Linked DNA regions of Homo sapiens: region 2 is linked to region 1. The links come from fine-mapping of genetic effects on gene expression. A gene starts in region 1. The other region holds a variant in brackets. All regions are shown on one strand. Distances are from middle to middle.

Region 1 (4,394 bases):
TCTGAAGATATAATGAGATAATAGATGCAAAATACCTACTGTTATTTTATTTATGGTTATTGTGTCAGTCCATTTGCATTGCAGTAAACTTCGGGTGACATAAAGAAAAGCGGTTTACTTTAGGTCAGTTCTGCTGGCTGTACAACGCAAGTGTGGTGCTGGCATCTGCTCTGGTGAGACCTTAGAAAGCTTACAATCATGGTGGATGGTGAAAGGGAGACAGCGTGTCACATGACAGGAGAGGGAGCAAGCGAGAGAGAGAAGGGAGTTGCCACACTTTTAAACAACCAGATCTCTTGTGAGCTCAGAGCAAGAATTCAGTCATTACCATGAAGAGGGCACCAAGCCATTCATGAGGGATTCTCCTCTATGAACCAAAGACCTTCCACTAGGCCCCACCTCCAACATTGGAGGTCACATTTCAATATGAGATTTGGAAAGGACAAAACATCTAAACCATTAGTTATATATACACTATTTTCATTTGCTTAACCAAAAAATACTTTTCCAGTACTGAGAAGTTTGTTGTTTTCCAGCATATTGAAAACACTGGGAGGGACAAGGTAAGAATGATAAGGGTGGAAAAGGACAATGAACTACAATGGTAAATGGGGTGATGTCACAGCAGGTGACATTTATATTGCACTATGAGATGTCCCACAGTTACTCCAAATACAAAGAGACCACAACTGAACAAGGCAGGGCTCATTACTCTAGGCCAGTTAATGTTGATAAGGTCATAAGCAGCCACCTAAGATCTCAATTTGTCAATTTAGGTGTCACACTAGGCATATCTCCTCCTCTTCCAATTAACCGTATCTGTTTATTGTAGTCTTATATACTGTGTCTCCTACTCTTTTCTTCTCCTTTTCAGTTTCAATGACCTTTGGCATCTCCTATGGGTTTTGGCAAACACCTCTAAACTGGCATCTTCTCTTCCAATTTATCCCCCTTTAATCCATCTGCCATACTGAGAGCAAAGTGATCCTCCTAAAATGCACAACTGGTAGCAAGTTTCTTCCCTGATTAATTTCTTTCATTATCATCTACTGTGTGAATTTCAATTTCTGTATACAGCATCTAAGTTTATTACAGAAGTTAACAAATGTGAAGTACTTGAGCACACAGTAAGTACTATAGAAATGCTTGTTATTATTATTTTTTTAATGACCTGGTCTCCACTCTCCTTTTCAATCTAAAACACTGTCATTCCTCCATTAGAATAATTGCTCACACTTTTGCAAGCCCACTGTGCTTACACACATCTGGGCTTCACACACACACACACACACACACACACACACACACACACACTCTTCCACGTTCCTGATTTCTCCTGTGTGGAAGTCTTACTCTTTTTTATATTCTACCTCTCCTGGTGTTTCATAGCCCCTACATACACAAGATATTTTCTTCCAATTCTGAGACCTCTGGACTTGTATTGCTTTTCTGTTTGTAGCCACCACATTGGGTTCTAATTTGTTCCTGTGTTCCTCTCCCCTAATAGATGTTGAGCTCCTGGAATGCAGGGATTGTATTTTACTTATTCCAAGCACCTGAAGAAATGCTGGCACATGGTAAGCAACTAGTATTTAGTAAGATTTTTTTGAACAAATGAAAAGGATAGGCTAGAATTAGATAAAATGTAATTAAGAATATTTAATGATATGGAAAGAAATTCCCACTAGGGCAGAGAAAAGAAGTTTAGTCAAAATCTGGCGCGCTGCAGTTTAACTTCTAGCTAAGCAATGATGGCGGTGATGCAGCAAAGCCTATTTGTTTGAGATCCTGGCTTTTTGATCCGTTGGTGCCACCCACGCTATGTGCTGGATGGGGGTAATCAATATACCACCTTCTCTGCTACTTTGGGCTCAGGTGGAAGGAATTTTATTCCACTCTCTGCAAATCTTCCCGGTGCCTCAGTGGGAAGTGGACGCTGTGAGGGTCTACCAGCTCCCAGAAGGCCTCCCCTTTCTGTTTCCCCTAGGGCCCTCCACCCGGGCTGCAGCCCCAGCATCGCGTCCTCTCGGAGCAGCCTGGCCCCAGGTGGCTGCGGGGCGCGGGACCGCGGGCCCCGGCTCGCCCCTCCCCGCGCGTCACATGCGCGAGGATGCGAACTCCCCTTCCCTCCTCCTCCGCCCCCTCCGCCTCCCGGGCCTCTTCCTCCTGCCGGTGAGGGAGTGCTTGGCAGATTGCGCGAGGGGGAGCGAGCGAGCGGGCGCTGCCAGGAGCCCGCAGCCCTGGCGCCCGCCGCCGCCCGGAGCCCCGCAATATGCCGCCGCGGCCCTCTGGCTCTAGGCCATGGCGAGGCTCTGCCGGCGTGTCCCCTGCACCCTGCTTCTCGGCCTGGCCGTGGTGCTGCTGAAAGCGCGGCTGGTCCCCGCGGCCGCCAGAGCGGAACTCAGCCGCTCCGACCTCAGCCTCATCCAACAGCAGCAGCAGCAGCAGCAACAACAACAACAACAGCAAAAGCAGCTGGAGGAGGCTGAGGAGGAGAGGACAGAGGTGCCTGGGGCAACCTCCACCTTGACGGTTCCAGGTAGGTCCTGGCTGCCCAGCCCGGTCTTTCAGTCTCGGCCGGCGATCTCTTAGGGCCTCGCCGGCTTCCTCGCCCCTTCCCTATCCATTCCTATCCTCGTTCGTTCCTGTCACCATCCCTCCCGATCTCTCTCCCCAGACTGGCTGCCCAGCCTTTGGTCCCTTGATCTGGTGTCGGGAATCTGCCCTCCGGGTAATGAGCTTTCTGAGCAGCTCAGAGCACTGCGGTGGGTTGGAGAGGGGTCGGGAAGGCTGGGGGTGGGTGACTGCCTGGATTGATCTTTTTCTTTTCCCTCCCTTCTTCCTGAATTCTACCCTCTGCCCTGGGAATGACTGTAACACACACACACACACACACACACACACACACACACACACACACACCGTTCTTAAATCCCTTAAACATTTTGTTCTCTATCCTTTTCTCTCCTAGAGACTGAGAAATCTTGCCATGGACACCCACACACCCCTTTTCACCATTTCTCCATGCCTGCTATATTTAAATTTAGCCATGAAGAGAGAAATCTTTATATATTTTATTATTTATTTCTCTTTCTCTTTACCCCAGGAAGGGTTTAAGGGTTCATCTTATTGCAAAGAACTCTTTTAGTACAATAAGATGAAGCAAAACAAAACAGGAGTTTGTAATTGAAGGAAAGGGAAAAGGAGAGGGGGACACATAAGGTGAAGTCTGGAGTGGTGTTAGAACAGCAAAAGCCTATCCCTAGAGAGAGAAATCTCCTTACTTGTTAGTAGAACTTAAATGAGGCAGATTCTTGACACTGTTCAGTGAAGGTGTAGAAATACGGCTGTAGTATAGGTGGCTGTAACAGTTCCGCAGTTCCTCCCTCTTTCCCCCCATTAAAGCTCCATCGGTAAGCAAATAGCTAGATTATCCATGTATATTGCATCTCCCTACCCCGCAACCCACTTCGCTTCATGGCTGTAGATTCTTGTCTGCTATTTGGAAAGAAAAAAAGCCTCCAATTTTCTGGCACGAGGGCTTAGGTTTTGTGAAACCAAAGTGAATTTTATTATGACGTTTGTTTTTGTTTTAAAATCCTGCCTGGTAACACTATATGAGTGCTGAAAATGAGATTTGAAAGAGTGGAATCAGCATCACATTTTGTATTGCTTGCTCATCGTCAAAAAGCAGTACACAGGCATGCCAGCTGCGATTCATGACACAGCCAGGATGATTTAATTTATCAGAGTGCTCTGAGCATAGGATGAAATCACCAAAGTGTGCAGGAAAGCATGTGTTTCTGACACCCTCTTAAACCAATTAATAACACTCAAGTGTGGCTAAAAGTCTTGAAAGGTATACAGTGTATGGTGGTTTTCCTACCCAGCTTTTAATAACTGAAAGTGATAATATGGTTTGGGTGAGGCTGCTGTTAGACATACTGTTCGCTAAAGTTAAGGAAATTGGATATATCAGATTGATTGGCCTCATTAATAGAGATATTTCATAAATTCACTATGAAGCCGAAGTCTGGGAGAGTGTTGGTGGGTTTTATGGTTTGCAGTATATTTTTATTTCAATGGACCTTTCAGGAATATTAAATGAATTTTGACTACTGTAATATATATATATATGTTGTGATTAGGGTTATGAACTACTGCAATAATATGAAACCTGAATCCAGCATGCAAATTAAAATGTTTGCTTTCTGATATTTGTGAGGGAATATTCTGAAAAAGCTGATTGTCTGGGAAATTAGCAGTTTTTGTTTTATTTACCTATTAGATTGAGATAAAGGAACCACACTCTTCGATAGATCAAACTAGAACCTGAGAAGTAACCTATGATGATTCTTCTTCCTCAAAAACTCTAATTACCCAAGCCAGTGGCA
Region 2 (4,394 bases), 260 kb after region 1:
AAAATCTTATCGCAGCACTATGGGAGATTCAGTGGACTCACAGTTGCCCCTGCTGGTGTCCCAACATTGAAGGGCCTTAAACAGATTCACCCCATTTACCTGAGTTTGCAGGAATTTGAAAAGACTAAAGGCAAAGATGAAAATGAGAAATCTGACCTCGAATCACTGGGGCTAGTGGTCAGGCATATTAATCAGGACAAACACTGATGCAGGGGTCAGGTTCTCTTGGCCTGATCCTCAACAACACACCTGGGGCTTGTGCATATGTGTGAGGATAACGAACACGGAGTGGAGAAAAACTTCTGAGAGTTCTTCCCACAGGATCCCAATGCATTATGTTATCAAAACCTGTTAGTGAAGTCATAACTGGGTGACAGTTTGCTAGGGAGCATCTGGGGATATAAAGATTGATGAGATGAAGGTGAAAGTTTGGATGAAAACTGGAACATTAGAACGGACTTCATGTGAACTGCTTGTGTCTCCTCTACCTAAGTGTGTTATTAGATGGAGTCATGTCTGACTGGGAGCACTTCCCATTCCTAGTATTATAAAATCAAAGGTATGTAAGTTTGCCCTTCTGCAATCATTAATTGGGCATACTAAATGGGAACCTATAGAGTTGCCTGAGCCCACATAGCTTGTTAATTTGACACAGTGTCAGATGAATCCTAGTAGACAAAAAGAGAATACCACTTTAATTGCTGACATGTTAGAAGTTGGAGTGCTGATACTAACAAATTTTCTGTACAAATGTCCTGTGTGGCCCATGAAAAAGGGAAGTGGCTCATCAAGACTACAGTAGATTTTCCAGGCTTGAATAAAGTAGTCCTGGCCGGGCGTGGTGGCTCATGCCTGTAATCCCAGCACTTGGGGAGGCCAAGGTGGGCGGATCACCTGGTGTCAGGAGTTCAAGACCAGCCTGGCCAACATGGTGAAACTCTGCCACTACTAAAAATACAAAATTAGCCAGGCATGGTGGCATGTGCCTGTAATTCCAGCTACTCAGGAGGCTGAGGCAGTAAAATTGTTTGAACCTGGGAGGCAGAGATTGCAGAGAGCCAAGATTGTGCCACTGCACTCCAGCCTGGGCAACAAAGTGAGACTCCATCTCAAAACAAACAAACAAACAACACAAAAATAAGCTCGGCATGGTGGTGCACATCTGTAGCTACTCGGGAGGCTGGGGCAGGAGAATCGCTTGAACTCAAGAGGTGGAGGTTGCAGTGAGACGAGATCAGGCCATTGCACTCCAGCCTGGGCAACAGTTTGAGACTCCATCTCAAAAAAGTAAAAAATAAATAAATAAATAAAAATAAAGTAGTCCTGACTACAGCACCAGCAGTTCCTGATATGGTTTCAATCATGCAAAAAATACAATGTCTTGCAAATGTTTTTTCTTTATCACAATCTCGTACAAGAGTTAAACATGGTTTGTCTTTATGTGGGAAGGATCTCAGCTTACTACATTGTATTGCCACATGGTTATTTGAATTCACCAGTTTACTGCTGTGTCAATACGCTGCATTGCTAATGCCACAATCACATCAGAAACTGAAAAACAAGCCAGGATTGACTTAATGCAGTAGTGAACAGTCATCACTAACACAGGCTGGTTGACCAATCTAGCAAAGATCCCAGAGTCCATATCAATGGTGGAATTCTCAGGAATAACCTGGGCAGGAGCTATCACATCCCACAGGCAGCTAAACTAGACTCTCTTGTTATCTACTACTGGAACTCAGTGAGAAGCACAGGGTCGGGTGGGTTGTTTGGATTTGGAAGACACATTCTGCATCTGGAAAGAGTGCGAGCTCTTATCTATTAAGGCTGAAGAAAGGCTGTATTTGAATGGGAGCCATCACAATAGCAGTCTATGACTGAATTTCAAGAATTGATGTCTGGATATATATTGGGCCCTTATGGTCCACTCTGATATGATTTTGGAAGTTCAGTCAGTTCAATCAGCACTCTTTTTTTTTTTTTTTTTTTGAGACAGAGTTTCGCTCTTGTTGCCCAGGCTGGAGTGCAATGGTGCGCTCTTGGCTCACTGCAACTTCTGCCTCCTGGGTTCAAGTGATTCTCCTGCCTCAGCCCCCAAAGTAGCTGGGATTACAGACGCCCACCACCACATGGGCCAGGCTAATTTTTGTATTTTTAGTGGAGACAGGGTTTCACTATGTTAGCCAGGCTGGTCTTAAACTCCTGACCACAGGTGATTCACCAGCCTGAATCC[C/A]AAAGTGCTGGGATTACAGGCATGAACCACCTCGCTCAGCCTCAGTCAGCACTCTTATCTGCAGGCTTCACATCTCCTTGGTTCACGTTAACATTCCTAAAGTAGATGGTCAGCATCCTGTTTGGAAACCTCCCCACTCTAACCAACTGATGGTAAAACAAATTGAAGAGGTTGAGAACAAGTAAGCTCAGTAAGCTGAATTGCATGCTATTTTCCTTGCAGTGGTGGAAGAATTAAACAACAATTAGAGCCCTGTAGTCCAGGTGCATTCCAACTCATGGGCATTGGCCAACAGCTGGCCATGTGGTCAGGAAGAGGAACAATGGAAAACTGGATTGTTAGTGGGGTGTCCAGCTGGGCGCGGTGGCTCACGCCTGTAATCCCAGCACTTTGGGAGGCTGAGGCGGGTGGATCGCCTGATGTTGGGAGTTCAAGACCAACCTGACATGGAGAAACCGTGTCTCTATTAAAAATACAAAATTAGCCGGGCATGGTGGCGCATGCCTGTAATCCCAGCTATTTGGGAGGCTGAGGCAGGAGAATCACTTGAACCTGGGAGGCAGAGGTTGTGGTGAGCTGAGATCGCACCATTGCACTCCAGCCTGGGCAACAAGAGCAAAACTCTGTCTAGAAAAAAGAAAAAAGGGGGTGTCCATATGGAACATGGCCTTATGGAAATCACTATGGGAATTAAAGGGATGCATTAAATAGGACATATTAATGCCCATCAGAAGAACCTTTTTCCCAGACTGGAAAGTGATTGGAACCCCAAGTGGATATCATGGTACATCCAAGGTGGCCAACTGGGCCCATGAAATGAGTGGACATTGGGGGCAGCAGCAATGCAGAGAGGGGTGATCATAGATACATAGTCTTCTGCACCCCCAGAAGCATAAAATGCCAACAAGAACTGTCCTCACTGCCCTCCAACCCGGCTCACATCCCTACTGACTCCCCACCATGCCAGCTCACTCTCCCATTTGGTGTCCCTTTTGTGTAATATCTCTTTTCCCACTGTTGGAAACTCATTAGCCTGGCTAATATGGTGAAATCCCATACCTACTAAAAATACAAAAGTTAGCTGGGCATGGTAACAGGCACCTGTAGTCCCAGCTACTCTGGTGCATAGGTAGGAGAATCACTTGAACCTGGGAGGCAGAGGTTGCAGTGAGCCAAGATTGCACCACTGCACTCCAGCCTGGGCGACAGAGCAAGACTCCGTCTCAAAAAAAAAAAAAAAGCTTCTCTTGGCTGGGCATGGTGGCTCATGCCTGTACTCCCACCACTTTGGAGGCCAAGACAGTAGAACTTGAGGCCAGGAGTTCAAGACCAGCCTGGGCAACATAGTGAGATCTTGTCTCTTAGAAAAAAAAATTTTGTTTTTTGAAATGAAGTCAGCATATGCTGCCCAGGCTGGAGTGCAGTGGTGTGATGTCGGCTCACTGCAACCTCCGCCTCCCAGGTTGAAGCAATTCTCCTGCCTCAGCCTCCCTAGTAACTGGAACTACAGGCGCCCACCACCAAGCCTGGCTAATTTTTTTTTTTTTTTTTTTTTTTTAAGCAGAGACAGGGTTTCACCATATTGGCCAGGCTGGTCTTGAACTCCTGACCTTGTGATCCTCCCTCCTCGGTCTCCCAAAGTGCTGGGATTACAGGTGTGAGCCATCGCGCCAGGCCAGAAAAATTTTAAAAGTAGTCAAGTGCGCCATGTGCCTGTAATCCCAGCTACTCCAGAAGATGATGGGGGTAGGACCACTTGAGCCCCGGAGGTCAAGGCTGCAGTGAGCCATGATGGCACCACTGCACTCCGGAGAGAAAATATGTCTTAAAAAAAACAAAACAGGCCAGGCACGGTGGCTCATGTCTGTAAACTCAGCACTTTGGGAGGACGAGGTGGGCGGATCACAAGGTCAGGAGTTCAAGACCAGCCTGACCAACATGGTTAAACCCCGTCTCTACTAAAGATACAAAAATTAGCTGGCATGGTAGTGGGTGCCTGTAATCCCAGCTACTCGGGAGGCTGAGGCAAGAGAATTGCCTCAACCCGCGAGGTGGAGGTTGCAGTGAGCTGAGGTTGTGCTACTGCACTGCACCGGGAGACAGAGCAGGTCTTGGTGAAAAACAAAACAAAACAAAACAAAACAAAACAAAACAAAACAAA

What was found. PIP is the estimated chance that this variant, and not a neighbour inherited with it, causes the effect.
Region 2: its variant is the best candidate, but not a certain one, in a credible set for the expression of FAM171B in substantia nigra (GTEx, PIP 0.72).

Annotation. Positions count from the first base shown.
Region 1 is chr2:186,691,873-186,696,266 of GRCh38, forward strand. It overlaps FAM171B (family with sequence similarity 171 member B), which reads left to right and starts at 2,188. Exons shown (of 8, transcript NM_177454.4): 1 at 2,188-2,539. The coding sequence starts at 2,302. RefSeq lists a silencer at 1,992-2,351.
Region 2 is chr2:186,954,950-186,959,343 of GRCh38, forward strand. No RefSeq gene overlaps it. Among named protein-coding and RNA genes, the nearest start is that of CALCRL-AS1, 46 kb to the right of the region's middle. The variant C/A (reference allele first, on the strand shown) is at 2,234.